Regions from separate parts of the Homo sapiens genome. Here region 2 is linked to region 1. The links come from fine-mapping of genetic effects on gene expression. A gene starts in region 1. The other region holds a variant in brackets. All regions are shown on one strand. Distances are between the middles of the regions. Region 1 holds the start of ARL3 (ARF like GTPase 3). Region 2 overlaps ARL3 (ARF like GTPase 3).

Evidence for each region.
Region 2: its variant is fine-mapped to the expression of ARL3 in skeletal muscle (GTEx, PIP 0.96).

What each region holds. Positions count from the first base shown.
Region 1 is chr10:102,705,668-102,720,766 of GRCh38, reverse strand. It overlaps ARL3 (ARF like GTPase 3), which reads left to right and starts at 6,370. Exons shown (of 6, transcript NM_004311.4): 1 at 6,370-6,494. The coding sequence starts at 6,492. It overlaps SFXN2 (sideroflexin 2), which reads right to left and starts at 6,131. Exons shown (of 12, transcript NM_178858.6): 1 at 6,086-6,131. RefSeq lists enhancers at 5,153-5,728, 5,729-6,305 and silencers at 6,091-6,240, 6,059-6,453, 6,521-6,570, 6,611-6,710.
Region 2 is chr10:102,669,952-102,685,050 of GRCh38, reverse strand. It overlaps ARL3 (ARF like GTPase 3), which reads left to right. Exons shown (of 6, transcript NM_004311.4): 6 at 8,110-11,320. The coding sequence ends at 8,157. Among named protein-coding and RNA genes, the nearest start is that of TRIM8, 33 kb to the right of the region's middle. RefSeq lists enhancers at 10,697-11,246, 14,150-14,751, 14,752-15,099. The variant G/A (reference allele first, on the strand shown) is at 8,167.

The DNA of each region.
Region 1 (15,099 bases):
GACAAATATCCAGAGTGATACCTAGGGTTTCTGACTTGGGCGATAGGTGCTAACAGGGAGAGCACAGAAAAATTGGCTTTGAGGGAGAAAATATTAATAGTAAGCTTGATTTCTGCATGTTAAGTTTCAAATACCATGGGATTTTTTTTTTTTTTTGAGACAGGGTCTTGCTCTGTTGCCCAGGTGGGAGTACAGTGGTATGATCATGGCTCACTACTCCAGCCTCCACCTCCCAGGCTCAAACGATCCTCTGACCTTAGCCTCTCAAGTAGCTGGGACCACAGGCATGTGCCAACATGCCCGGCTAGTTTTTGTATTTTTTGTAGAGACAGGGTCTCCCTATGTTGCTAGGCTGGTCTCAACTCCTGAGCTCAAGGGATCTACCTGCCTCAGCCTCCCAAAGTGCTGGGATTACAGGAGTGAGCTACCAGCCCCGGTCCTGCCATGGGTTTTTTTTTTTTTTTTTTTTTTTTTTGAGAGGGAGTCTTGCTCTGTCACCCAGACTGGAGTGCAGTGGTGCGATCTCGGCTCACTGCAACGTCCACCTCCTGGGTTCAAGCAATTCTCCTGCCTCAGCCTCCTGAGTAGCTGGGATTACAGGTGCGTGCCACCACACCCAGCTAATTGTTTGTATTTTTAGTAGAGACGCGGTTTCACCGTGTTAGCCAGGATGGTCTCGATCTCCTGACCTCGTGACCCATTACCCGCGTCGGCCTCCCCAAGTGTTGGGATTACAGGCGTGAGCCACCAAGCCCGGCCGGGATTTTCTTAAATGCAATAGGCCTCTTCCTGTCTCAGGTCCTTTCCAAACACAATACTCAAAAGCTAGTCTTTCCTCTCTTCACTAAATAGTACCTATTTGTCCTTTTATTTTTTTGTACAAATAATTTTCAGATTTACTTCTATAGCTTCTACTACTAGGTCATTTTGTTTTTTTCTTGGAAATAGCACCTTAGCTAAGTTAAATAATTCACCTGTGAAGTGAGGTGGTATGTTCATTTTGCTCACGACTGTCACCCCAGTGCCTAGCACAATATTCAAGTATTTGCTGAATAAGAAGTTCATCAGCCTGTGGGTATTCAGGCTTGAAAGGAAACAGAGGTCAGAGCTAGAAGGAAAAAACTGAGTCAGCAGCATCGAGGTGATTTACGATAAAGTTTTCCAGTGAGAACACACAGAATGGGAAGAGGAGAGAGCTGAGGACAAACCCTGAAAAATCAGGACATTTAAGAAGCCAAGGCCGGGCACAGTGGCTCACACCTGTAATCCCAGCACTTTGGGAGGCCGAGGCGGGTGGATCACCTGAGGTCAGGGGTTTGAGACCAGGCTGGCCAAGATGGTGAAACCCCATCTCTAATAAAAAAAAAAAATACAAAAATTAGCTGGGCGTGGTGGCAGGCACCTATCATCCTAGCTATTCAGGAGGCTGAGGCACAAGAATTGATTGAACCCAGGAGGCGGAGGTTGCAGTGAGCCGAGATTGTGCCACTGTACTCCAGCCTGGGCAACAGAGTGAGACTCTGTCTCAAAAAAAAAGAAGCTGAGGCCGGGCACGGTGGCTCATGCCTGTAACCCCAGTGCTTTGGAAGGCTGAGGCGGGCGGATCACGAGGTCAGGAGTTTGAGACCAGCCTGGCTAACATGGTGAAACCCTGTCTCTACTAAAAATACAAAAAATTAGCCGGGCGTGGTGGCAGGCGCCTGTAATCCCAGCTACTTGGGAGGCTGAGGCAGGAGAATCACTTGAACCCGGGAGGTGAAGGTTGCAGCGAGCCGAGATGGCGCCACTGCACTCCATCTTGGCAACATAGCAAGACCCTGTCTCAAAAAAAAAAAAAAAAAAAAAAAAGAAGCCGAGAAAAGGAAGCCCCCAAAGATGGGAAGAACCACCAGAAAGAAGAGAGAAAGGAGGTGGAGACAGGCACAGGCCTGTAATCCCAGCACTTTGGGAGGCCAGGAGTTCAAGTTCAAGAAAGGAGGCAGAAGGGACAGTGTTGGGGAAGGAAGAGCAGTGGTCAATTTTTAGATTTTTCGTTAAGGCGGAAGAGACATCAGGAAGCTGATATGCTGGAGGTACGCCATTTCCTAAGAGGAAAGACCAGGAACAAGAGGAGAGGCTCAATATGGAGTATCCACAGCGCCCTGGCCTGGCCCCGATGCTTCTCTGAAGCGGCAATCTCCAGAGAAGTCAGAAGGCAGACAGAAAGAGTCCACTGCCAAAACAGACTTCCCCTCTCCCTGCCACCTGGCCTCCTGCAGGCTGCTTCAAAGACCAAAGGCATTTATCTCAGTCCCAGCTGAAGCAAGAGTGGGAGGAGGGGAAAGAGTTCACTTTCCCATGCTCTACATGAACCTAAAAGGAGTCAGCTTGGCTGGCTGAACACACGCTGCCTTGGCTTACAGAGCCCCAGGCTCATACATGCTGGAGACAGCCTGACTGAGCAAAATGCTATGCCTCCCCCTCAGCACACACATACACACAGAGCCAGACCTTCTCTGACATCTCTGTTCACCTTAACACAACATTGCAAAGTCCTCTGCTTCTCAGAATGGAGGGACTATCATCAAGGGGTAATCTAAACATTTGCTAATTATGCAAGAGCCTTTGCCTTCTTAATTGAAGTCAGGATAGAAACTGCAGAGTCCCTGTCTTAAATAAAACATAAAGCCAAAACAAAAACAAAACAAAAAAAACACTAAACGATCTGTCTGGAACATTTCCCCCCACACACCCACTGTCCCCCAATGGGCACTCTTCCCCGACTCCTTCAGGACAAACTCAAATCCTTCTGTGATATATACTCCTACAGCATCCTGTCCTTTGCAGCATGCTGGGCGTTTGTGATTGTCACCTTCTTGTCATTGACTGTGATTTGTGTAAAGTCTGCCTCCCCTGACAGACTGTAAGGCTCACAAGCATCGGGATCATGTCTGTGATGTTTACTGCTACATGTTTCACATGCCCTCGAAGAATATTTACTGCTTACCTGAAATGCATTCCAACTTCTTCTTGGGTCTCTTGGCATCAAGGATGTCACCTCTTTTAAGTCAAACTTAGAACCTGCCTAGGTTACAGAATTAAGAGCACGCTTTCTTTCATGAAGTTGCAAAACTGTCTACCTTGCCTGTACTAAGTCATACTGGTCTCTAAATTTTCTTCTACAGTTACTGTCCCTCCTCCCACACAAGCCACATCTAGTCTTCCCTAAAAAGGTCATCATCATGTCCAGGGTAGCCCCACTTCTGTATGGTCCCACTACTAGGAACAAAGTAGGAGTAAAAATCAGACCAGTGATTTAATGATATCTCCCTCCTAGGATTAGAGAATGTCACAGCTTGAGGCCGGGCGCAGTGGCTCACGCCTGTAATCCCAGCAATTTAGGAGGCCGAGGCGGACGGATCACGAGGTCAGATCGAGACCATCCTGGCTAACCCTGTGAAACTCTGTCTCTACTAAAAATACAAAAAATTAGCCAGGCGTGGTGGCACGCACCTGTAATCCTAGCTACTCAGGAAGCTGAGGAAGGAGGATCGCTTGAACCCGGGAGGCGGAGGTTGTAGTGAGCCAAGATCGCACCACTGCACTCCAGTCTGGGTGACAGAGCGAGACTCCGTCTCCACAAAAAAAAAAAAAAAAAAAAAAGAGAGAGAGAATGTCATAGCCTGAAGACATGTGATCTAAGATCTCAGTTTACAGAAGAGGAAACTGAAGCCTAGAAAGGTGCACATGGATTGGGCCACCACAGTGGGCATTTTTGATACACTTGGCCCTGCACTAAGCGCTTGCAGCAGATATAAACACGAACAATCAACAGATCCAGTCCTCAAAGATTGGACAACAGCTAAGGCCTTACTTCCCCAAGGTCCTCTATCCACTATAGCCTACTTGCCAACTCCGAGGCCTGGCACGGTGGCTCACACCTGTAATCCCAACACTTTGAGAGCCCAAAGCAGAGAGATCACCTGAGGTTGAGAGTTCAAGACCAGCCTGACCAACATGGAGAAACCCCCGTCTCTACTAAAAATAAAAAATTAGCCAGGCGTGGTGGTGCATACCTGTAATCCCAGCTACTTGGGAGGCTAAGGCAGGAGAATCGTTTGAACCCGAGAGGTGGAGGTTGTGATGAGCCGAGATCGCACCGTTGCACTCCAGCCTGGGCAATAAGAGTGAAACTCCATCTCAAAAAAAAAAAAAAAAAAAAAAAGGAAAGAAAGAGAGGGAAACAAAGAGAAAAAAAAAGTAATAGACTACTGCCACCTCTGACGTAATGCTCATCCTTCCCAGAAAGAGCAGATTTTCTCTGGCAAATGGTATCAGAGATCAGAAAACAAGCTTCCAAATTCCTTCTGAGGTATCCTCTTACAAGCAGAAGTGCACAAGATTACTGTTTGTAGCCCCAGGTAGGGAGAAAAACGAAACATCATCGCTGGTACTCACATCAGAGGAAGATCAAGGTAGCCAAAGACCCCAGAAGGTCAGACACAAAGACCACTGAGACAGGCAAGGATTAAGGTCAAGGCTGCCTAGAGCAAGCTGGAAAATGAGGGTAATAATTACAAGAGCAGGCCCAGGTATAGGCTTATGGGTACTCGTCTGACTCCAAGGCAAGTGGGCTGTTAGGCACCAGACAACTTAGAAAGAGCAACCTCCCTTGCCTTTTTCACAAAAGGGCCAACAGTCTGGAGATGAGTAGATTATAGGGGTTTGTGCTCCTGTATCACCTCCATTCATCACCTCCTTAGTCAAGGCTCTGAACTGCTTTTTCTCTCCAAGGATCTGAAGCAGGTATGCAAGCAGCAGATGTTGATTTTTGTTTTCATTTTTTTTTTTTTTTTTGAGGCAGGGTCTTGCTCTTTCACCCAGGCTGGAGTACAGTGATGTGATAATAGCTCCTGGGCTCAAGCAATCCTCCAGCCTCAACCTCCCGAGTAGCTAGGACTACAAGTGCGCCACGGAACCTGGCTAATTAAAAAAAATTTTTTTTTGTAGAGGCAGGGTCCTACTGTGTTGCCCGGGCTGGTCTCCAACTCCTGGGCTCAAGCCTTCCTCCCCTTCCACCTCTCAAAGTGCTGGGATTATAGGCATGAGCCACTGCGCCTGGCCGCAATTACCAATTTCTAGGGGTTGTGAAAATGAAATTTGGTATGAAATGTATTTCATTAGGAAGGATGTAATTTCCATACGGGCTGATTTTGTCCACTGCTGTGTCTCCAGCGTCTAGAACAGGGCCTAGCACGTTTGTGTAAACTCTTCTTATAGTCCTCTGCATCGGGAAAGGGATGGGAGGTAGCACTTCCCAACCCACCCCAGTGTCCCACTTGCTCTTCCTTGGCTAAAAATGCAGGCTCATTTTTGCCTCCTCCAGGACTACAGATGGTACGCGGTCCTGTCCAAAGCAGCTTAGCAAAACCGGCCAGAGGCTGGGCACAGTGGCTCACCACTTTGGAACACCTGTAGTCTCAGCACTTTGGGAGGCCTAGGCGGGCGGATGGCTTGACCCCAGGAGTTCGAGCCCAGCCTGGGCAACATGGCGAAACTCCGTCTCTACAAAAACAAAATACAAAAAATTATCCAGGCGTGGTGGCGCCCGCCTGCAATCCCAGCTACTCGAGAGTCTGAGGCGGGAGAATCGCTTAAGCCTGTGAGGCAAAGGCTGCAGTGAGCCGAGATCGCGCCACCGCACTCCGGCCCGGGCGACAGAGCGACACCCTGTGTCAAAACAAAAACCGGGCCGATCCCCAAAACGCCTTTCACCTGTGCTTTCAGCTCACCTCAGGGCTCAGGGCCAGCCCCCAGGCTGCTTCTTGCCCTCCGACAGACGGCCTCCCCCCATCGGTACTCCCCCATCCCGGACAGCTCGTAACGCCCCAGCCGCTCGGCCTGGCACTCCTAGGCAATGGGGGTCAGAGCAGAGGGGCCCATCTGCAGCCCCAGGGCGCACTTCGCGCCACGTGGCTTCTGCAGGTGGAAGTCCAGCCCGCGCTGCAGCCCCGCCTGGGCAGTCAGGACAGCAATCTCAGCACCCACCCGAGATGTGGGGATTGGAGGTAGACAGGGCGAGCGCCATTGTCCCAAGGCCCCTTACCTGGTCCCGGGACAAATGCCACCAGTTACAGCCCGCCTTGAAAACTGGCCCGGGTGAGAGGAGGACCTGGGCTGGGGAACTGCCCCCACGCCCGCCCCACGCCCCTCCTTTTCGACCAATCCCAGGCCGGGAGGCTCCCGCCAGCCACGTGGGCAGGCTTTCTCCACTCCCTGGTCCAGGCGAGCCGGCGGCGGCCTCTGCAGCTCCCGTAGCCCGCCCACTGCGTGGGCGGGCGCCTTAGCGCACTTGCGCACTCTGGGGAAAGCGGAGCTGCACCCCGCCCCGTATTGCTGCTCAGCTCCTCAGCTGTGCGTGCGAGGGACGTCGGGGGCGGCGCCGCAGCAGTTGCCCCTGGTAACGGGGGAGGCAGCAGGAGGAGGAGGAGGAGGAGGGACTCGGCGGGAGGATGGTGAGTGTGGGGGCCTGGGCCCCCTTGGAGCCGGCCGGTTATCCCCCTCCCGTCCCCAGGCCCAGGGCGGAGCACTGCGCTTAAAGCCAAGGAGGGAATGGGACGTCGCTCAGCCTGCTATCTGGGTTGTGGACTGATTTCGGGGGTCGGCGGGGAGACCCGAGGGTGGGCCCTGGAGGGAGGCCTGGGCCTGGAGAGGAAGGCGGGGCTTGCAGCGGGTCCGAGGCTTGGGGAAGGGGCTGGCAGAGTGCGCGGCTGGCCGGGTGCGGAGCCCGGGCTCCATCATTACTCTGGGGACAGGGGTGAGGGCGGATCCCAGGAACTGCGGAGAGCAGCTTTCGCTAGCAGGCTTAGACTTCCCGGGCAATCGGTCTCGCGGCTTTGCAGTAAAGTGGGGTTCGTCTGGAGCCCGGCCAGAAGCGGAGAGAAGGCCGGCCCCATTGGCTCTGAGGTCGCCCTGGCGGTAGCAGGGGAGATGGTAGCCTAGCTCTCCTCCTTCTCGCGCTGTGCGGGCCCCTGGGGGGTAGGGAAGTAAGTCCCACGACACAAAGGGGTGCCGCTTGGAAGGGATGCCTGGTGGATTTTACGCCGTCTTGGTGTCTGCGTGGCGGGTGCGCTTCCTCAGTCCCGAATTATTTAGTTATTTGCTGAGAGTTTTGCAGGATCTGATTGTTGGTGATGACCGATTTTTCATTCAATACATAATCCATGTTGATGAAGACATATTAGCTGCTCCGTCTCTAGAATTTCCTTCGAAACCTTTTGCAGTCTCCTCTTGCGTGTGACCATACCAGGACCAAAAGATCTTAATCCTAGCTTGAGTTCTCCAAACTGAAAAGAACGAGAAGTTAAAAATGGAGATCGAACTTCAATCCGGGGCAAGGCTTTTCTCTGTCAGTCCCAATTAAAGCTTTCCCAAATTCTAAATTATGGTTGTGACAGATCTGACCGTTGACACTCTGTTTCTTGTTAATGTCTGTACAGTTAGTTGGAGGGAGTTAAAATGGAATTGAGTAATTTTAGAGCTATCAAAGAAAAATTGATTTTGAACACTTAAAGCAGGTTAGTTGGCTGCAAAGAGCCTGTCATCAAACTTATAGTCACTGCTCCAACTCTCTTCCTAGTTCCTTTCTTGACTTTTAGAAATGTTGAGCCATTTCTGTTGATTTAAGAAGTAAAAAAAAAAACAAAAAAACTAGATGCCCAGGAAAAAAAAAAATAGATGTATGTTTGGTCAGATTATCCAGTGAGTAGATTTAGAAAGGAAAAAAAAAACTCAATTGATTTTACATTGTCAGATTGTTAAAGAAGTAGGGTTATTTGATCTGAAGTTGCCAATCACATTTCACACTTGCTACACTTGCAGTTTTTTTTTAACCTCAGGCTAAACAGATTTTTACAACTGTTTCTTTTTCTTAATCATTTATACGTGAGCTGTCCTTTTAAAGTTAAAGTTTTTCTCAACAAATGAGTACAAACATAAATATTTACCCAGAAAATAGCTAGAATTGGAATGAAAAGGGCATGCCGAACCAACAGAGATTGAGATTCATCATTATGGATGAGAAGTGCATGAGAGTTGGCTAACTTTTCCCAGTTTGTTGATCAATTAAGTGTACTGTGTAATCCATGATTGTTTAATTTATAATTACAGGCCACAGTAAATTAACCACTGCCCATGTTTCCAGGTGCAAATTGGCACAGTATACAACAAATTTACAGTGTATATACAACACTGTTGTATACAACTGTTGTGTTCAATGATGAAAACAGATTTTGTTTTTCTTTTTTCCTTTTTCCTAAGATGAACAATAAGAAATTAAGACAAATTATTCCGGATTCTTTATCTGGTTTCCCAAAAACATTTTTTTTCTATCTCCACAAGCGTGAGCTGTTCTTAAAACTTGAAGTGAAACACTGAATTTAGTCAGTCGTGTGACTTAAGTGTATCCCATCTGGTATCCCATGAGCCCCCATGGTTAACTGTACAACTGAAGCGTGAACCCCAAGGTTTTTTTGGTTTTTGTTTTAAACTTCAGCTGTGACAAATACATATTTTTTTTCAAATTTGGGTAACTGTGGCAAAAACCCAAATATGGGTTTCTCTGAACATTTAGAGTCAGCTATTTTACCCCTGCTTTACAGTGCCAGGTTCTTGATGAATTACTAAAATACTAAAATGACAGTAATTTTAGCACGTAACTAACCACTTATATTTAACATATGATTCCTTCATTCAGTAATTATTTATGGAGCACTTTCTACATATATGGAGCTTGTGGTCGTTCTCAAGCATGTTCAACATTTGAAGATTGTTCCCAACAGTTACTTATGTTTTCTGGTTAGAAAATGGCCCGTGAAAAATTATTTTAAAAAAATAAACAAAACACGAGGGTAGTCTTTTCAGTGGCTGTTATGTGTCATGCTTTACATACATGACCTCATTTCATCCTCATAGCATCATCTCTTGAGATGTAAGTATTGTTCCTGTTTTCTTCTTTTTTTTTTCTTTTTTTGAGACGGAGTCTTGCTCTGTCACCCAGACTGGAGTGCAGTGGCGCGATCTCCGTTCACTGCAAGCTCCGCCTCCCGGGTTCACGCCATTCTCCTGCCTTAGCCTCCGCAGCAGATGGGACTATGGGCGCCCGCCACCACGCCCGGCTAATTTTGTGTGTGTGTGTTTTTAGTAGAGACGGGGTTTCACCATGTTAGCCAGGATGGTCTGTATCTCCTGACCTCGTGATCCGCCCGCCTCGGCCTCCCAAAGTGCCGGGATTACAGGCGTGAGCCACCGCGCCCGGCCTGTTCCTATTTTCTAGCTGAAACTGTGTGCAGTGTTATGTATATACATATATATATATAAAAACACACACACACATACATATATATACATATATATATACAGATACATATACATACATATATATATATATATACACACACACACACACACACACAGAAGCTGAATACAAGTCTGTGAAATTCTAAAGCCCATAACATTCATTTCATTAGGACTCTGGTGAAGTGGGAACCCACTCTTCCTGAGGAGATGCTCAGACTTTGTTCCTTAGGAAACATTGTTTGTATTTATTTAGGAGAGGGTGATGAGAAAGAAGACACAGTTTGGATTAAGTTCTCAATTTTGAGCTTTAAGCTGATAGGAGTTCAGTTGAAAGACGTAAAAACAAATGGAAGTCAGTTATATTTAAGCTAGTTATGGGGACCGTATGTACTTGACTGTTGGCTTCGTAATTTCAGAATTCAAATTTTAGCTGGTCCTCACAACCACATATATTTTCCATATACCAACGCATTCCTTCTCCCTCCACCACTCTGGTTTCTTTGAATGACCTAGTTTGTATTGTTTTAGGTCAGGGCACCATGCCTCTGCCAGTAGTTTAAGCTGATTTCGAGGCAGATAAAACGTCTGTAGTCCATAGCACATCTATTCATGATTTGACTGTAGAAAAGTTTGTTTAAATGTTTTGTGGTTGAGTCAGACCACTTCTGCCCACCAGGGTGTAGATAACTTGTATACACACATGCTGGTAACACACAATATACTTTTAACTGAAGTTCATGTTTCTTAAATTGTTTTATTTAATGTCACAGGAATATAAATCCTACATAGAGATCATGCCCGTTTTGCTCACTGTTGTACTTGGGGCACATTAAGGGTGTTTAATGATAATTGCGTGAATGGATATTTTGGCCAAAAAATGCACTTTAAAAATTAATGTCATTGTATTTATACTGCAAAACTCAGCCCTATGATAAATTTAACTTCTAATCGCTGTCTCCCTTCATTTGACAGTTAAAATAAAATATGGGCATATATGTATAGATGCACAGAATAGACTTATTCTGGTCTCTTTCATCCAGCCTCTTAAATCAGCTTACTTTGTACCTTTCAGGCAGAACCCTGATCTCTATAAATATCCTCTTCCCTATTTAGCAAACCCTGATAATCCTGTGATCCCATCCTCAGTAGTTGGATTAATATGATGCTGTATTATATTTGCACTTGTCTTCCCTAGACCATGCTTGAAATGCCATTTATCATTTTGCTGGAAGAAAACATTAGCTGAACTTTGCATTTCTCTGTAATTTCACTCAAAGGTGAAGTATCTGAAGTTATTATTTCCTAATAAGGAAAATTACTCATTAGAAATGTAGAAGCACTGTATTCTACACCATTAGGTTAATAAAGTTTATCTATAGTTAGAATTTTTTTTTTTTTTGAAACAGTCTAGCTCTGTGGCCCAGGCTGGAGTACACTGGTGTGATCTCGGCTCACTGCAACCTCCACCTCGCAGGTTCAAGCGATTCTCCTGCCTCAGCCTCCCAAGTAGCTGGGAATATAGGTGCCCACCACCATGCCTGGCCAATTTTTTGTATTTTTAGTAGAGGCAGGGTTTCACCATGTTGGCCAGGTTGGTCTCAAACTCCTGGCCTCAAATGATCCGCCAGCCTCAGCCTCCCGAAGTGCTGGGATTACAGGCATGAGCCACTGCACTCAGCCTTATAGTTAGAATGATTTCTTTTTCTTTCTTATCTGTGCTTTGCTCCTCTCCTTTTAAGGTGAATAAACATTATGTTTGTCTCTTTTTTTTTTTTTTTTTTTTTGAGACAGAGTCTTGCTCTGTCACCTAGCCCATAATGCAGTGGCCCGACCATAGTTCACTGCAGCCTCAAACTCTTGGGCTCAAGCCATCCTTCTGTCTCAGCCTCCTGAGTAGCTGGAACCGCAGGTGCACACCACCACACCTGGATAATTTTTTTTTTTTTTTTTTGGTAGGGATATGTGTCTCGTGTTTGTTGCCCAGGCTGATCTTGAATTCCTGGCCTTGAGCTATCCTCCTGCCTCAGCCTCCCAAAGCACTGGTATTACAGGTGTGAACCACTGTGCCTGGCCTTGTTTTTCTCTTAATTCTTTAATATCAAATGTAATGAGTGTGGAGCAAGTCTCTGCCTGAAAAAAAAAACAGTATTTTTAGTAACTTCTTTAAAAGAGACACATGAGGAAAAACCCAAAACATTAATTTTAAACTTTGAAAATATTTTATAGGCCGGGTGCAGTGGCTCACTCTTGTAATCCCAGCACTTTGGGAGGCCGTCACGGGCAGATTGCCTAAGGCCAGGAGTTTGAGACTAGCTTGGGCAACATAGTGAAACCCTGTCTCTACTAAAAATACACAAAATTAGCTGGGTGCGGTTGTACACATCTATAGTCCCAGCTACTCCGGAGGCTGAGGTGGAAGGATCACCTGAGCCTGGGAGGCTGAAGCTGTAGTGAACCATGATTTCACCACTGTACTCCAGCCTGGCATTAGGAGTGAGACCTTGTCTCAAAAAAAAAAAAAATATATATATATATATATATATAATATATGGTTTTATTTTTTGTTTTTGTTTTGAGATGGAGTTTCACTTTTGTTGTCCAGGCTGGAGTGCAGAGGCATGATCTTGGCTCACTGCAACCTCTACCTCCTGGGTTTAAGCAATTCTCCTGCCTCAGCTTCCCAAGTAGCTGGGATTACAGGCATGTGCCACCATACCCGGCTAATTTTGTATTTTTAGTAGATACGGGATTTCGCCATGTTGGCCAGGCTGGTCTCGAACTCCTGACCTCAAGTGATCCACCCACCTCGGCCTCCCAAAGTGCTGGAATTACAGGTGTGAGCCACCACACCCGGCCAAAAAAAATTTTTTTTAAAATAGGAAACAGATCTTCCTTCATAATTTCTGCACTAAGCAGAAAATGCATGAGAAGAACTTTGCCTGTGTCATTTAATGTACTAATTTGATAAATTCCAGATGTTTTATAATTTATTTTAAGAGGTAATGAGACCTCTTCTTTTCACTTACAATCAGGAACTCAGGATGAGTAGTAAAATGGGTTTTCCTCTTAGCCTTTTTATGTCACCAGTCCCCTAAGGATCTCAGAATTTTAATTTTTACTTTTCTGAAAGGTGATATTATAAATGAGTGATTGCAATATAGCTAATAGAAACCAGGGAGACTTCTTGTAAATATAGTTTTAAGAAGGAATGCTGTCAAAGTATTCAAGACCAGATGAGATAAAAACAGCAAAAAAAAAAATCTTGCCTTTGGGTGGATCGCTTGAGCTTAGGAGTTCAAGACCAGCCTGGGCAACATGGCAAAACCCCATCTCTACAAAAAATACAAAACTTAGTGGGGCGTGGTGGTGTGAGCCGGTAGTCCCAGCTACTGGAGAGGCTGAGGTGGGAGGATCGCTTGAGCCCAGGGAGTCGAAGCTGCAGTTAGCCGTGTTCACGCCACTACATTCCAGCCTAGGCCACAGAGGAAGACCCTGTCCCCCCAAAAAAAAGAAAAAGGAAAAAAAAGTCTGGCCTTTTAAAAAGCCAGACTTCTGTTTGTTTCCAATCTATTCAATCTCTGTCCCCCAAATCTTTTGGCATAGAATTTGTCTAGCTTAGACTAAACCTTCCATCTTACTGCTGGAAAAAATTGAGGCATAGAAAGGTTAATGTGGTCCTTAGCAAGTCAGTACAGATACAGTACTAGAAGTGGTAAACAAAGAGTCTCTGAGGCAGAAAGGAATTCTTAATAATTATGCATATTTGCGTATGATTGTCCAAAGATGCAGTTGTTGAGAATTATTTCTCAGAAGTATCCTTTGATCTTAGTGAACAAACTGGTTTGAATTATTGCCTGGTACAATGTGAATAACAAATACAACCATTTTGCATAATTCTAAGACTCAGTTTGAAGGAATTTCTTCTTGGGCTGGGAGATTAAATTATATGCCCTTTAAACTCTGGGATTCTTTGACTCTTGTTCTAGCCATGTGTCGTTAGAACAAGATTATCAGCTATAGCACAGAACAAATAACTTTCCTATAAAGATGTTCTTATGTTCTTAACTAAAAATCAACATGGTTTATTTATTTTTTCTTTGTTTTCTTTTTCTTTTTTCTTTTTTTTTCTTTTTGAGACAGAGTCTCACTCTGTCACCCAGGCTGGAGTGCAGTGGTACAAATACAGCTTACTGCAATCTCGACCTCCCAGGCTCTAGCAATTCTCTCACCTCAGCTTCCTGAGTAGCTGGGACCACAGGCCTGCGCCACCATGCCTGGCTTATTTGTTTTTTATTTTTTGTAGGGACAGGGTCTCACTATGTTGCCAGGGCTGGTCTTGAACTCCTGGGCTCAAGCAGCCCTCCTGCCTTGGCCTCCCAAAGTGCTGGGATTATAGGCGTGAGCCACCATGCCCAGCAACATGCTTTATATTTCTATCCATAAAAAATAATAAATAATGGCCAGGAGAGGTGGCTCATGGCCTGTAATCCCAGCACTTTGGGAGGCCAAGGTGGGCTGATCGCTGGAGGCCAGGAGTTCAAGACCAGCCTGGCTAACATGGCGAAACCCCATCTCTACTAAAAATATAAAAATTAGCTAGGCATGGTGGCACATGCCTGTAATACCAGCTACTCTGGAGGCTGAGGCACAAGAATTGCTTGAACCCAGGAGACAGAGGTTGTAGTTGAGCCGAGATTGCACCACTGCACTCCAGCCTGGGTGACAGAGGGAAATATTAGATTAACAGTAAAAAATTCCTTGGTTAATTTTGGTGGGTTTTTGTTTTGTTTTGTTTTGTTTTGCTTCATGGATGCCTTTTATGATTTCTTAACTTCTCTGTTGTACCAAATTTTTCATCTAAAAAACACAGATTATCTATACCATGCACCTATCCTGTAGGGTCTTGTGAAAGATGATAGTAGAACATTTTGAATGAAGAAGTCTTGAAGATGTGCTGAAATAGATAAAATCTTTTTTTTTGAGACGGAGTCTTGCTCTGTCACCCAGGCTGGAGTGCAGTGTGCAATATCGGCTCACTGCAACCTCCGCCTCCCAGGTTCAAGCGATTCTCCTGCCTCAGCATTTCGAGTAGGTGGGACTACAAAGCGCCTGCCACCACGCCCGACTAATTTTTTATATTTTTTGTAGAGACAGGGTTTCACCGTGTTAGCCAGGATGGTCTCGATCTCCTGACCTCGTGATCCGCCCACCTTGGCCTCCCAAAGTGCTGGGATTACAGATGTGAGCCACCGTGCCCGGCGATAAAATCTTTTTTAAAAATTTTTTCCTTTTAATTTTTGTGGGTCCATGGTGTTATATATTTATAGGGTACATGAGATGTTTTGATACAGGCATGCAATGTGAAATGATGAAATAGATAAAATCATTAACAGGAAGCCCAACTATAATTTTATATAGCCTTTTTATATATTTTTGTATAACACCTTAAAATCGTGTGTTAACTTGGGTGTGTCATCCTATTTAATTCCACAAGTGTTATCTAGTGTCTGTTTGATAAGTGCCAGGCATTATGGGACAAGTATAGCCCTTACCACGAGAAACTTTAGTAAAGGAGAAAAATACAAACATCAGTTACCTAGTTTGATATGATGAATGTTCTGCTCTAAGTGTATGTAAAGGGCTTTAGGAACACAGATGGGGTAGAGTTCACACTCCCAGGAGATTTGGGGTGACTGCTAAGCTAGATTGATTGGAGGAGCAGAAATAAGCCCTGCTACTTATTAAGTTGCTGAATTTACTGTA
Region 2 (15,099 bases), 36 kb after region 1:
GTCTTGAACTCCTGACCCCAAGTGATCTGCCTGCGTCAGCCTCCCAAAGTGCTGGGATTACAGGCATGAGCCACCCTGCCCGGCCCTGGCTGCTTTTTAAAACATCAAGGCCAGGTGCAGTGGCTCATGCCTGTAATCCCAGCACTTTGGGAGGCCGAGGCGGGTGGATCACCTGAGGTCAGGGGTTCGAGACCAGCCTGGCCAACATGGTGAAACCCCCGTCTCTACTAAAAATACAAAAAAAATCAGCCGGACATGGTGGTGCACACCTGTAATCCCAGCTACTTGGGAGGCTGAGGCAGCAGAATTGCTTGAAGCTGGGAGGCGAAGGTTCCAGTGAGCCAAGATCGCATCACTGCACTCCAGCCTGGGCGACAGAGCAAGACTCTCTCTCAAAATAAATAAATAAATAAAAATAAACAATCAAAATTTGTCTAACATATTTTACTCCGATTGCACATAGGATGGCAGTCATAAGGCCTAAGGTTATTTTGATGAAGATGAGACCCAAGAAAAGATAGTAATTTTCTTGTGTTTCTGAAAACCACTTCAGCATGAGCCTGTCTAAAAGGTTTAGATGACAAATTTAGAAAGCTGAGAGTAGCCGGCTGTGGTGGCTCACACCTGTAATCCCAGCACTTTGGGAGGCCGAGGCAGGCAGATCACGAGGTCAGGAGATCGAGACCATCCTGGCTAACACAGTGAAGCCCCGTCTCTACTAAAAATACAAAAAAATTAGCCGGGTGTGGTGGCGGGCACCTGTAGTCCCAGCTACACGGGAGGCTGAGGCAGGAGAATGGCCTGAACCCAGGAGGCGGAGCTTGCAATGAGCTGAGATTGCACTACTGCACTCCAGCCTGGGTGAAAGAGTGAGACTCTGTCTCAGAAAAAGAAAAAAAGAGAGAGAAAGCTGAGAGCATCTTGAGGTTGGGGGCTATTATGAAGGTGGGGCTGAAGAAAAGCAATATAGTTTGTGTGCATATTCGTAAGAAAGTGCAAGTACAGCTCTGGAATCTTTCTTTTGCTTGACCAGAGTGTTGAAGAAAAAGCAAAGCGAGAATTAACAGTAAGCCTCTTGTATCTTCCACCAGCCTTAGCGATGTGAAAAAGGAGAACTAGAGTAATCTAGAATCAGTATTTAGAGCCGTGGCATTTAAAGTCAAGGACACTGCTTCAGAGAAGCCTGGAGGTAGAGAGGGATCTCCTGTCATTTTCTTCCCAACCCCCAGCCCTCCCCCAACTCCCATCAGGTGGAGATTAAAGGATAGAACTCCATGCTCCTGGCTGTGTAACCACCGTAGACAGTGCCCTTCACGGGATCTTTAGGCCACAAAAGAGGCAGCAAGCTACTAGGCAGCTAGAGGGTGGGGTTGGGGACAGGCAGGGGAGCACTGCAAAATAAACCAGTTTGAGTGAGTAAAGTGAGATTATTATATATGATTTGATTTTGATAAGAAAGTTCTTCCCAGATTGGGGCCTTCAGCAACCAAGTTCACAGGAAATGATATCAAGAGAGATCCAACAAAAAACTATGAGCAAAAAATAAAAAATGATTTTTGTATGGAGGAGAAATAGTTTGAAGGTCACTTAATTAGTTTAGTAGATAGTACCATGGTGTATAGAATTGGGTAGTTAAGACTGGGATTTCAAGGTTAATGAGATTAGATTATGGTTAATAGAATGATATAAATTTAGAGAATTTAACCATTATTTGAAATGGGTTATTTAATAAAAATGTTAATTAAGAAGGGAATCTGCTGTCTATTGTCCTTTCGTGGTAACCTTTGGGGACTAGAGAAAGGTCATGGAGTTTTGCTGTGGAAGCGCTTTTCACTGTGAGCCACTGGTTGACCGTGTACCTCCCTAAGGTGGTGCCTCTGACCCAAGCTCTTGTCCACACACCAGCTTCCTGGTTTTTGCCTTAAAAAGAGTCACTTAAGTGGAATTCCTTTCCAGCATTGCTTAGTTGAAGTACAGGCCTTTAGTAATTTTTATTTATTAGGGCTAAAAATATTCTAAAACTGAAAGACTTTACTAGAAAAATATCAATAAAGATCGAATGGTTTGAGGTTCACTTTCAAACGTGAAAACTGTGCAATAATTACTGAAATGCCCTAAATTCCTGTTTTTTTCCTCCCTACCCCACCCCACCTCCCCAAAAGCTGGCCCAAATGATTAGGCACTGAATAGGCAAGTCAGGTGACATCTGATTCTAACAACTCTGAAAGAAAATGTACAAAGGTTTAAAAATAAAAAAAGGACCTGGAATTTCTGTTGCAGTTTCAAGTGTTTAAAGACAGACACATACATCGTACATGTTTAATCAAAACATATTTAAGAGACCTGTCTTGTACTGCTTAACAATAGGTAGCCTCACGGGGGCGAGTTAAGGAAACAGCCATGGAGCTGCTAGATGGCAAGCCACGCCCCTCTGTGGATGAAGTAGGGCAGGTACATCACTTCTCATTAGTGGAGTAGCTTAAACACATGATTTGAGACTATGGAAGTTAGTGATTCCTGGGATGGATTTCAGGGTCCCGTTCCACCTGGTGTCCTGAAGGCAGCACATACGAAGCCATTACAGGGGTGGGAAGTACCACGTGTTGTTCACCAGCCTCTGCTTCAGGTGTGGAAACTGACTTTTGAGAGAGGATGGAACCGGGGTTTCTTTTCCTCATTGGTGCTGACTGGGAAGCCAGCCCATTGTATGATTAAAGCAGGTTTTCACGGGAGACCATCAGGAGCAGAGAGTAGGTAAAGGGCACGAGAAGCAGAAGGAGATCATCAATCTCAGAAACTCTGTTGTGCCAAGAGGCCCACTGTCCAGGGGAGTGATGAGGAGAGACCCAGTTATGTCAAGTGGATGAAAGCGGAAAGAGGAGAAACTGAAAAATGTCTGGGAGGGAGAACCGAAGCCAGACTCCATTATCAACATGGAGGAAGTGTCACTCTGCGCCCTCGAGGTCAGGCCCAGGTTGCCAGGGCCCCTCCTAGGATGAAACATTCTGCACTGGGACTCTCAGTCTTTTTTTTCCCTCCTTGGGTGTCTAGAAAATAGTGAACAAAGGATCTGGCTTAGAGCCAGAGAAAGGTATCGAGAAATCCATCCCTCCTCCACCCACAGACCTGAACTTGAACCCCAAACCACAGCTCTTTCTGCTGTTACAGTTCCAGGCATTTGAAGACATTTTCTCTCTAAAATACTCTGAGTGTGCATGTGTGTGTGGTATGTGTAATTAAAATGATACTGGCTTTGAATTTCCTCTCAAAGCAGAGATCCGAAGTTTTAACCTGACCTCTAGCCATGGTCACCACGGAGACTTGCCTCCTCCCATAACCTTAAGCCAGCAGATCGTGCCCTGGGTGCTGCTCTCCAGGCCACCCCCTCATGCTCACCTTTTCTTGTGATGTCTGCCCCACGTTCCTCTCCTCCTCCTGGAGACAGGAGCCATGAGCAGGTCACATAGGCTTTCAGTTGCCTTGTGTCCACAAAAGGGGCCATGAGCAGTCCGAGCGCCGAGCTGTGATCCGTGCCTGAGTCAGCCTCCAGAGGAACACTAAATGCTCACTCGCCCATTTCTTGGTTTTGCTTCTTTTTCCTTGATTTGGGGGACTTGTCCCTAATATGCCACAGAATTTTAATTTTTTTTTTTTTTTTGAGATGGAGTTTCGCTCTTCTTGCCCAGGCTGGAATGCGATGGCACAACCTTGGCTCACTGCAACCTCCACCTCCTGGGTTCAAGCGATTCTCCTGCCTCAGCCTCCCGAGTAGCTGGGATTACAGATGCCCACCACCACGCCTGGCTAATTTTTTGTATTTTTTTTAGTAGCAACGAGGTTTCACCATGTTGGCCAGGCTGGTCTCGAACTCCTGACCTCAGGTGATCCGCCTGCCTCAGCCTCCCAAAGTGCTGGGATTACAGGCGTGAGCCACCACGCCTGGCCTGATATTTTGAAAAACAAAATTTACCACTTCTTTCTAGGCCTGGCATCAGTTATTGTTGACTCCAGGTGTATATGGAACTGCTTATCTGTGAGTCAGACCTCAGGTTTATTTTTAAATTTTCAAACTTTTCTGGAGACTAAGAAAGCAGTCTCAGGACATGCGATTTCACTACCTTTCTGGTGCAATGCCCTTTGTCACCAGAAAAAAAAACTACTAATAGCGAGCCATATTTGATGGAAGCAGCATCCAGCTGCTTCTTGACCCTGGGGGCCTGATGGCACAATGAGGTAGGCTGCATTGCTCAGCAAGGGTCCGAGCACCTCATCATCTTAAAGCAATTACTGCTGTGACCACGTAACCAGCATGGCTCTAAAAACCAGGCCCACACAGCCATGGCTGCCACCGCTTCCTTCCAGCTACCGAGCAGTGATGGATGCAATGTACAGAGATCAAATTTAAGAGAGCAGCATAGTCAGAGACCACTCTTCCCTTGGAAAGAAGCAGTGCACCTTAACTTCTGGGATGCAGAGATTTGGGAGGAGTGAGTTTCCCCTGTATGCTTAGGGGTGGCCTGCTGTTTCTCCCAGTGGTTATAGGGGAGAATAATATTGTGACATAGGAAACTTTATTTCCTCTCTAGGAGGCCAAACAAAGCTCAGTATTTGAAATTCCATGTCTCTCTTTAGTCTCTGTTATTGAATTGAAGCTAATCAATTCAAATTCAGTTTCAGCAAGATTGGTCAGGGGAGGGTCCAGGGAAGGAAGGAAGGGAGGACTATTCATACCGTAAGATCGTCATCCCCATAATGAAGATCAAATGTACAGAAAATTGGTCAAACCAGTTTTTAACAATAAAGATTCGGCCAGGTGCAGTGGCTCACGCCTGTAATCCCAGCACTTTGGGAGACTGAGGTGGGTGGATCACAAGATCAGGAGATCGAGACCATCCTGGCTAACATGGTGAAACGCTGTCTCTACTAAAAATACAAAAATATTAGTCGGGCATGGTGGCGGGCGCCTGTAGTCCCAGCTACTTGGGAGGCTGAGGCAGGAGAATGGCATGAGGCGGAGCTTGCAGCGAGTCGAGATCATGCCACTGCACTCCAGCCTGGGCGACAGAGCAAGACTCCGTCTCAAAAAAAAAGCCTTCCTTGCCAGGTGAAAGCAAGAGTGGTATGGAACATTTATTTAAACATAAGAAGCAGAAGGTTCCTCCTCTTGCAAGTATGTTTTCTCTAAATGTAGCATTTCCACTGGAGGAGGTGGTCTGGGTGGATGGTTAATATGTGAGGATTGTGCAGCCAGGCAGATAACCAGGCCTCTGCATATACAGATACCCACAGCCCAGGAATCTTGAGAACTGAATGGCCCATAACAACCTCTGGCACTATCGGAGCTGCAGGGAGGCTTGGCTGGGGCTACTCCAGTCTCAGGCCCCTGTTTTTAGCGGAAGTCACAAGGAGGATAAAACCAGAATTCCTCCTTTTCCCATCTTCAGGGTGCTTCCCAGCTCCTCTTTAAGCTTGGGGCAGAACCCTTCACCCGGCAGGTACCCACATCCGTGGAGAACTGGTAAGCAGCTCTGGAGCACCACGCTGGGCACCACAGCTTGCCATTGCCCTGCTCTGTCCTGTGCCTTCATCTCCTCAGCTGTGATAGAGAAATAACACCAGCACCTACTTTGCAGGCTTCTACAAGGATTGACTTAAAAGATGTGAATTAAGTGGGCTGTGGGCTAGACATCATGTTAGGTTCTGGGAATATAATCTCCAGCAAGTCTGATGGGAGCCTCCCCTAGGGGAGCTTGGGCACCACCATTGCCTTTCCTTTCCAGGAGGCAGCTTGACAAAGCTTGCCCTGATGTGATTGACAAAGCTTGCCCCAGCTAGATCCATGGCCACGTGATTGAGGAGGTACCATTGTTGGCCAATGCCTCCCCTTCCCTCCCCTCCCACCTCCAGCCCAGTTCTCTTCTGCCCAGCACAAGAAAGATGCCACTCCCCAAGCACTAGCCGCTTCAGATTAGAGGGGCCTCCCGGGCCCAGGGCAGCCACAGGGCTCGGTCCCCTGTTTACGCTCCCTGTGCTTCCCACACTCAGGGTTGCAGCGGCAGCTGCAGGGGCCCAGGCCGGGGGTCAGCTGGCAGGGACTGGCCTCTGTGCGCCCTCTGTTGGCAGGACAGTGGCTAGAAGGGCTTCACCACTGCTGGCCCTCACAGGCACCTGGAGACACCAGACACTGTCCCTCAGCAGGGCTCTGCCGTTTGAACCCTCCTTTGCCTCCATAACAGAGACCCGGCATAAAACCACCCCACACCCTCCACCTTCTGCTTTGGGCTCCTGCAGCTGAGTAAATATTTTTCCTATCTCTTTGCCTGCATTCATGTTCAGTTATATGCAATAATCTCTCCTTAATCAGCCATAAAGCAAGGAAAAGGCAAAGCGCTATTCACATAGTGTGGGCACACTGTCCTTGATTTCTCTGAGAAGATGGTTTGAGTGCGAGCCTCCGTAGAGGAGAGAGTGTTGAGGTGCCCACCTTTGAGTGTTTGTGTGAGCCCCTGAAGGTGGAAAGTGCTATGTAAGTGCTGAGCTATTCAGCTTCCCAGGCGAGAGAAGATGCTTATCTTATTCATCCCTCTTTTATTTGTAAAATCTTTTTTGTCTCTTGACAGGTGATCTTTTTTTTTTCCTGGAAACCAATTAGCTACTAAAATTAAACATGCTTCTCTTTAAATTAATCCTTTTCATAAAATGGTCTTAAAATTGGCCTTAGCTTCTCAGAGTAAGTAGCTGACCCCATTGTAATTAGAGATGCGTTTGGAGTCCTCATTTCTCCCACCTCGGCATTCCTCTGCCCTTCCCCCTGCTGCTGCCAGGTGCTGTCCACCTTCGGGCTTTCGGCGCCACCGGCCTCATCTTGGCAAAGGTCAGATGTCGGCTCTGGGACAGCCGTCAGATTATCTAGTTCTGCTGCCCAAGTGCACTGACAGCAACTGGCAGAGTTGTAATCACTGTAAATTCAGGTGACGGTCAGATGAGCCAGGAGAGAGGATGCCTGCTGGTTGTTTTTTTGCAGTGATGTATTGTTTATGGGATTAATGTTCCGAATGGCCAAGGGTGTCAGCTGATATTTATTACTGTAAGCTGTCTCAGCTGTTCAGGTTCGGCAGCTAGATCCATGGCCACAGGAAATGTGGGACTCGGTGGCATGTCCAGTATGGCTGATGTGTGCAGATGTAGCTGGGACCTCCGTGAGCCTCTGTTACAGATGCAAGGGGAAGGACTCATGGCAGCAGCTGCCTTGGATTTTGTTCAGGGCTTCTGAGGGAACTCCACACACTCTTGAAGGTTGGGGAGACTCTAGGGAAGGGGAGAGTGTCCAGGTTTGGCTCCAAAGGGGGTTGGGAAGGAGTTCACCTCTGACAGGCCTGGCATCCGTAGGAATTATGCTGCCTGCCAGGTAGCTGTAGGCATTGTGTGATTTTTACCTTGGTCCCTCTTCAGCCTTCTAAGAGAGGGCGCTTTCAAGGTCATTGTGCCTTTAAGGGAACCTTCTCCCCAGTCCCTCTGGATGCTGGTGCTTAAAGCTATAAGAAGCGGGCCAGACCCTTTTAAACCTATCTGGAGTGCTGCAGGAAGAGAAGTAAATGCACATCGCCCTGGTGTGTGCCTCGCAACACTCACTGCAGTAGGTTTGTTTTTCCAAAAAGAAATTTAATTTAACCCAAGTGTACACTGTCACACTGTAAACACATGGGGCACCAAAAGGGTGGCTTATTGAATTTAATGCCCTGGCAAAGGTCACCTTTTAGAAAAAGCCAAAAATGGCTGGAATCTTTCCTGATAGCTCTTCAGTCAGGCTTTGGATGCAGGCAGATGTGTTTATTTTTTCAGAGGGAGTTCCTGAGGACCCATCTCAAGTTCAGGCGCTGGGCATCCCCCTCCCATCGCCCTCTTGTGCTCTCAGAGACCTCCCTCCTCCTCCTCCTGGGAGGTCACTGTCCCTGGTCACCCAGGTGGGCCCCTGAGCCAAGCAAACTCCCTAAAGCTGGCGGTCTGGGAGGGAGGGCCTGGGACCCCCACTGCCCGCCCCTCCAGGCTAGAGTGTGTGGTGCTTTTCTTATAACTAACACTGCCTTTCTCTGCCCATTTCCCTCAAAGGATGGCATGAACTGGGTCTGCAAAAATGTCAATGCAAAGAAGAAATAAAATCTAGAC[G/A]AATGGAGATGCAGGAGCTGCGGGAGCCGAATTCGGTCCTGAAAAACACTAATTTGCTGCTTTCTGACCAAATGTTTTTCCATCTGTGTACAGCTCCAGCTGTTTGAAGAGAGGGAACAACACGGTTTAGAAAGAATCCCCATTCCAGCAGTAGATTTAACTGATCTCTGAGGTTCAGTATCATTTTTCAAATAAAGGAATTATATTATTTCCTCTGCATAATTGAAATAGTATTAAATGTCTCAAAGCACATGATTAGAAAATGAGATCTTTTAAATGAGCAAGAGATTGCATTGCAGTTTAGACAATTCCAGTGGGCTTTTTTTTCCTCTCAAAAAAAAAAAAAGAAAAAGAAAAAGAGGAAGAAGCAGCTTTGCTGAGTTCATTTATTTACTGACCCGTCCCTTGCATTCCCTCCATGGTTTTGAAACCACAGACAGTGTTTGCTGGTGCTGTCAGTGATTTTTACCGTCACTAGCCCAGCCAGGCTTCAGTCTGTCCGACAGGAAGCTGCTGGGTGGGGGTGGGGGGAGAAAAGGCAGATAATTAAACCATCTCATCGTCTTGCAGGTCGGAGACTACGTATGTAATCCTCACTCTTTGGACAGAAAAAAAAAAAAAAGTCTTTCTTGCAGACAAGTCACTACAGAAACATACCCCATCCCACCCACCCCTGCCTCTGCCCCAGCCAGCCACACAGAGAAGCAAATTCTTATGACTTTTGACTGTAATGACATCTGGAATGTAAGGAGAGGTGGGAGGTTTAATTCCAGAAAAATTACAAGGTCCTTAAAAAGCTCTCACATCGAGGGCTCAGGCTAGCGTAAACAGGCTTTCTCCAGCTCAGTGGAGCAGTGAGCAGCCGACTCTGAGATTAGCTGGCTTCTCCACGGCCGTCCTATAGACAGGATTTCTAAAGCTCAAAGAATTCTGTGTTTAAACGATCACAATAGGCCGCTGCTATCAGATTTTAGAAATAAATGCAGCTTTACCATGAACCTGCTCCACTGAGAAAAGCCAGGCAGATCGATTTTTAGATCAATTTTTACAGTGCTGGCAACTTGGTGGTGTGGGATGCTCCTGGATGGAGAGGGTTTGCTGCTGGGGAGGACATGGGTGTGTGTGTGACTGCAGGGGTCGTGTCCAAGGAATCAAGAGTCACCCCAGCTGCTGGGCTCCTCTGCCTCTCTGCAGCAGAATGTCCGTCCTCTGTTGATTGATTGGAGAGGAATAGCAGAACATTTCTCCTGCCCCTCGTTGCAAAACGAGCTTGTTTCCCTGAACCTCAGAAATCCTCAGCTTCAAACATGGGGAAACAGGCCAGAGCATTGCCCGGCTCCTGAATTAAACTCTGTTCTGGTGCCTGAGCTCAGGGGTTTTCAGAGAATGAATAAGAGACTGTCCAGTGACTGGTGGGTCCCTGGGGGCCAGCTGCCTTCTCATCCTGGGAGGTGGCCCTTCCCAAGCCCATCAGGGCGTGTGAGCAGACTGAAGGGGCCGCTGCAGCCCCTGGCCCTCAATACCCAGCTGCTTCTGGCTAAGAGTGCAGCAGAGACTGAGGCATAGCCAGCTTCAAAAGCGATCTGACATGAAAGTCATTAACAAAGCCAGCCGTGAAAAGGTGCCCCAGAGTTGCTGTGGACAGACCTGTAAGGACTTGCAAAACAAAAGAAAGTGAGGGGTTTTTTTAACCTCAGAGCTAGCTGCTCTCTGCAGCCTCCTCCACTGGCTTCTCTGGCTCACCCAAGCTCTCCCTTACAGAGGCAACACAGAATTATAAGGAATCAGAAATCCCCCTTCTACCAGGCTGCAAATGTGGCTCTAGCACTTGCAAATTGTTTTTTCTTCCGAATAGTTCAGCAGGGACAAGTTATCTGAGGGGCAAAATGCCTGCTTGGAGGTCTGCAATTTTGGAACACTGCAGTATGGAACTTTGGCATTGGAGGGTCTGTAAAATATTTTTGTTCTTTTACCACCAACTTAGGGGACTGTTTTAAAGAGCCATCCCAAGGCCTCTCCTAGCAGGCAGAAGCCACTCCTCTGATAACGGCCTCTGTAAATGTTCTGATTTGCTCTCAGCTGCAGAGACACAGAGACACTGCAGATGTCACACGCTTTCATCTTCCCTTTGAGCCCTTTTGAACCCTCCTGGGGCTCTGGGGTAGATGAGAGAAGCCTGAAAAAGGCAGAGTTTGAAAGCTCCCATTTAAAAACAAAATACTTTTTAAAGCCCTCTTGCCTCTTCCCTGCCCACTCCTGCCCCCTGACCAGAAGACAGAATTTGAAGCTGGAAAGGGAAGACCCCTTTTCCCCTCCTCCTGTCCCCAGTGAGTCTTAGCGAGACTTTTGCCCTGCGCACAATTGCATCTGAATGTGCGGGGGAGAGGGCTGGGGGCCGGAGGGCAGGCAAGGCCTGGGGGGTGCTCGTGATATGTGCTCAAGCCAGTTGTGGGAAAAACTCGAGTCCTCCCCTCCTCCCGACCTACCCCGTGTGGCTGCTTTTGGCTGGATTCCCTGCACCCAGTGCAACACACCCTTTCCCCTTCACTCTCCCTTGGTTACTATGGAAACAAGGGTGTCATTGATGTGGGCTGAGCTGGGGAACATGTCGGTGCACAGCTGAAAGTCAGCGATTATGCCGGCGGTTAGAAATGTGCCAGGGTTAAAGGAGTCCGCAGCTCCCACGGCTGCTGGGAGGACATGGTCCTGCCCCCTTCCTTCCTCCCTCCCTCCGTCTCCACTTCTCTCTCCTTGCTTTTGACAAATTTCTTTATTCCCCTCTGGACTAAAGTAGTGGCTATTTTTGTGCCACTCTGCGCCCCACCCTCACTGTTGGCCGCTCCTTATCCGGCCTGGCCTGGAGGGTGACACCATGTCACCCTCACCAGGACTCGTCTCTCCATTCCCGTCAGAGTTTGCTTTGATTTCCCTTTCCTTTCCTTCTCGGGGACCAGTTCTTACTTCCTTTTATTTTTAGCTCTGCACTCCATGTGGTTTCAGGGTTCAGTCTGATCCATCAAAAGGTTCTTTTTTTATAATCCCTTTTGAAAATGATAATCAAAGGAAGAGATGTGGTGTTTGGTCATGTGGAAAACTCAATGTATAATTTAGACGTCTGTCAAAAATCCGACAAATAAAATTTAGCTGGAACGAAGGCAGCCTGGAATGTGTTGTGTTCTTTGCTGAAGCTCAGAGAGGGCCTGAAATGTGTTTGTCCTTTCAGGGGTTAGCTTTCTTCAAGAGGTTTTTTCCAGAAGGATATATATATAAAATAGGATACCAACAATAGCAATAATAGCCCTTCATTAAGCCCCTCCTACGTGCCGGGCACTTCAGATACATCGTGGTGAGCATTAGTCCCCCTTTGCAGCAGAGGACATTGAGACATTTGCCCCAGTTAAGGAATTTGCCTGAAATCACAGAGCCTTTAAGTGCAGGTGGGGCCTGGAGCCTGGGTCTCAATGCTCAGCAAGCTGCCGCCTCTGGAGAACAAAAACAGTCAATGGCAAGGCCGGATCACGCCTGTAATCCCAGCACTTTCAGAGGCCAAGGCAGGTAGATCTCCTGAAGTCAGGAGTTCAAGACGAGCCTGACCAACATGGTGAAATCCCGTCTCTACTAAAAATACAAAATTAGCCGGGCGTGGTGGCACGTGCCTGTAATCCCAGCTGCTTGGGAGGCTGAGGCAGGAGAATTGCTTGAACCCAGGAGTCAGAGGTTGCAGTGAGCTGAGATCGTGCCATTGCACTCCAGCCTGGGCAACAGGAGAAAACTCCATTGCAAAAAAAAAAAAAAAAAAAAAATTTGTCAATGGCTCATCTCCCAGCAGCCTCAGCCCCCCCAGCCTCTGAGTGCTACTTCTGCCCAGCCTCCTCCCCTCAGCCTCTGACAAGCACTGCTCCCCTGGGTTCCCTGCCCCAGGTGTTGGGTGTCCTCTGCTCACACAGCACAACCATAGACTGGGTTTCATCCTTGGCCAAGTCCAGCCCAACAGACAGGAAAAAGGGAGAAGAAATAATTAGCAAAGTTAGGGCCTTCAGGGAGACTTGCAGTTACATAGTACCTAATACTGGATCTTCCATTTACAGAGGGTTCCGAGAGGGAACAGACCTGCCCAGTGTTACATGGAAGGTGCAGAGTTGGCAGCTGTCCCGGGCTCTGCCCTCTGGAGCAGAAGAGTTCGTTGTCCCTTCAGCAGGCTAGAGACACAGCAGCACAGCTGGTCCCAAAGGGCCTCACCATTTGTGTGTGTGTGTGTGTGTTTTGTGTTTTTGAGACAGGACTTCGCTCTGTCACCCAGGCTGGAGTGCAGTGGCACAGTCACAACTCACTGCAGCCTCAACCTCCTGGGCTCAGGCCATCCTCCCAACTCAGCCTCCCAAGTGGCTGGGACTAGAGGCATGTACCACCATGTCTGGCTAATTTTTTTTTTTTTTTTTTGAGACAGTCTCGCTCTGTCGCCCAGGCTGGAGTGCAGTGGCGCAATCTCAGCTCACTGCAAGCTCCGCCTCCCGGGTTCATGCCATTCTCCCACCTCAGCCTCCCTAGTAGCTGGGACTACAGGCGTCTGTCACCACGCCGGCTAACTTTTGGGGTTTTTTTGTATTTTTAGTAGAGATGGGGTTTCACCGTGTTAGCCAGGATGGTCTCAATCTCCTGACCTCGTGATCTGCCCACCTCGGCCTCCCAAAGTGCTGGGATTACAGGCGTGGGCCACTGCGCCCGGCCTTTAAAGAGCAAGCTGTGGGCAGAACTAGCTGGTAGCTGGAAGCAGGAGAAAGAAGAATTAGGGTTGCCAGATACATTACAGAACATTCAGTTAAACTTGAATTTCAGATAAACAATGAATAGTTTTTAATTCAAGTATATCCCATGCAATATTTGGGACATCAGTATAACATTAGAAAAATGCATTGTTTACCTTAAATTCAAATTTAACTGGCCATCCTAGCTTTTTGGTTTTGTTTTGATAAAGCTGGCAAAACCCTTCCCAGCACTCCCTGCCCAAAAAAGGGACAGCGCAGTGCAATTAAAAAGTGTGGCTGGGTGCGGTGGCTTATGCCCATAATCCCAGCATTTTCATGTTGACTAGGTCAGCACAGGGAGATTTAAAAGAGATCTCATGTAAACAAAGTGCCTAGATCTAGGACAATACCTAGCACATAGAAGGAACATTCCATGCCTCAGTTTCTTTTTCTTTTCTTTTTTTTTTTGGAGACGGAGTTTCGCTCTTCTGCCCAGACTGGAATTCAGTGGCACGATCTCGGCTCACTGCAACCTCCACCTTCCAGGTTCAAGCGATTCTCCTGCCTCAGCCTCCCGAATAGCTGGGATTACAGGCATGTGCCACCATCCCCAGCTAATTTTTGTATTTTTCGTAGAGATGGGGTTTCACCATATTGACTAGGCTGGTCTTGAACTCCTGACCTCAGGTGATCCACGTGCTTTGGCCTCCCAAAGTGCTGGGATTATAGGCGTGAGCCACCGTGCCTGGCCCTCAGTTTCTTATCTTCAAAATTGGGCAATAATCATGCTGCACAGTTGTCAAGAGGATGAGATGAGATGTCCGTACAGTGAGTAGTAGGTGCTAAATCAATGGTAGCAAATATAACAGCTGGCAGAAAGTCTGGAGTCCAGGCTTTCCAAGGCCCCTAAGACCTCTACCTCCCACCTTCCCTCCCATGTGGCTCTGTGACTTTCAAGGCCAGCAGCCCCCTCCCTTCGGGACTCCCAGGGCCACCCCAACCACACCTCCTGCTTAGCTTTGTAAGTGGGAAAGGCTCTTATCAGAGGCTCCTGATTGGCTCCAGGCGCAAACACAGTTTAGTGCTCAGTCAAGCTGCATCTCACGGCCTCTGTCCCTGTCTCCCCCTCATCCCCCTTAATTGCAATCTGTTCTGTAATTTCCTTTTCCAACACTGCAGAACACAGAGAAGCTGCAGCCACCAGGAGCAGGGGCAGGGAGGAGAGAAAGAGAGCCCTGGCTCCCTGCAGTCATTCTGCTGGTCCAGCACTGGTGTGTGTGTGTGTCCAGAACCAACCACACACAGGCGTGGAAGTGCAGCCAACAACCAGTCCCCCACAGTGTCAGAACCGGGGGAAAGAGTTAAGGAGGTAGCCACTTGCACCAGGTACTTCACAGTTACCTTATTTAATCCTCGCAAAGACACTGTTAACTGTAGGTATTGTCATTCACAGTATGAGGATGGGGCTCATAGAATTTGAATCACTCGCCCATGATCGCACAGGAAGAACTGGGCACAGTCAGGATTTGAACTCAGGCCTATTTCACTGCTGGGTCCCAAATTTATACCACAATACCTGTTTGCTTTTGGCTCCTAATGCTCTGCTCTCAGAAAAGGAGCTAAGGAATCCTTCTGCACGAAGGAACACGGAACAGTTTCTTCTCCAGAGCGAATAGCAGTGTCCCAGGGACAAAAAGCCTTTGCTAAAGAAATGAAATATTAATGACAGAACTGCAGAAAGCAAGCTGTGTCCAGGAGGGGGCAGGGAGAATTTGCTTGGATACCTGAAGCTGAGAGGTACAGGGTTGGGGTCAGAATCCCATTTAGCTAAGCCAACTGCTTCTCCTTTGAGTCATTAGTGGGTCTCATCCTTTGATTAGCCCTACAAGATAGCCGTTTACTGTCCCTAGTTCCCAGATGATGAAACCAAGGCTCACAAAGGTTAAGTCACTTGCCCAGAGTCACACAGCTAGGAAATGGCTTGACTGTGATTCCCGCCAGCCCACTTGCTGAAAGCCCATTTTATTCCATGATGCCACCCCAGGGAGGTAGGTGAGAGGCGGCCCTCGCTTTTTGCCACTCACCCTGTTTTCAGGATCCAGAAGACCCTGCCCTGGGGTCCCAGAGTCAGCTGCTGCTCTGGATGCCACCAGTAGAGGGGGCAGGAGGTGCCCAGCCCCACCCTTAC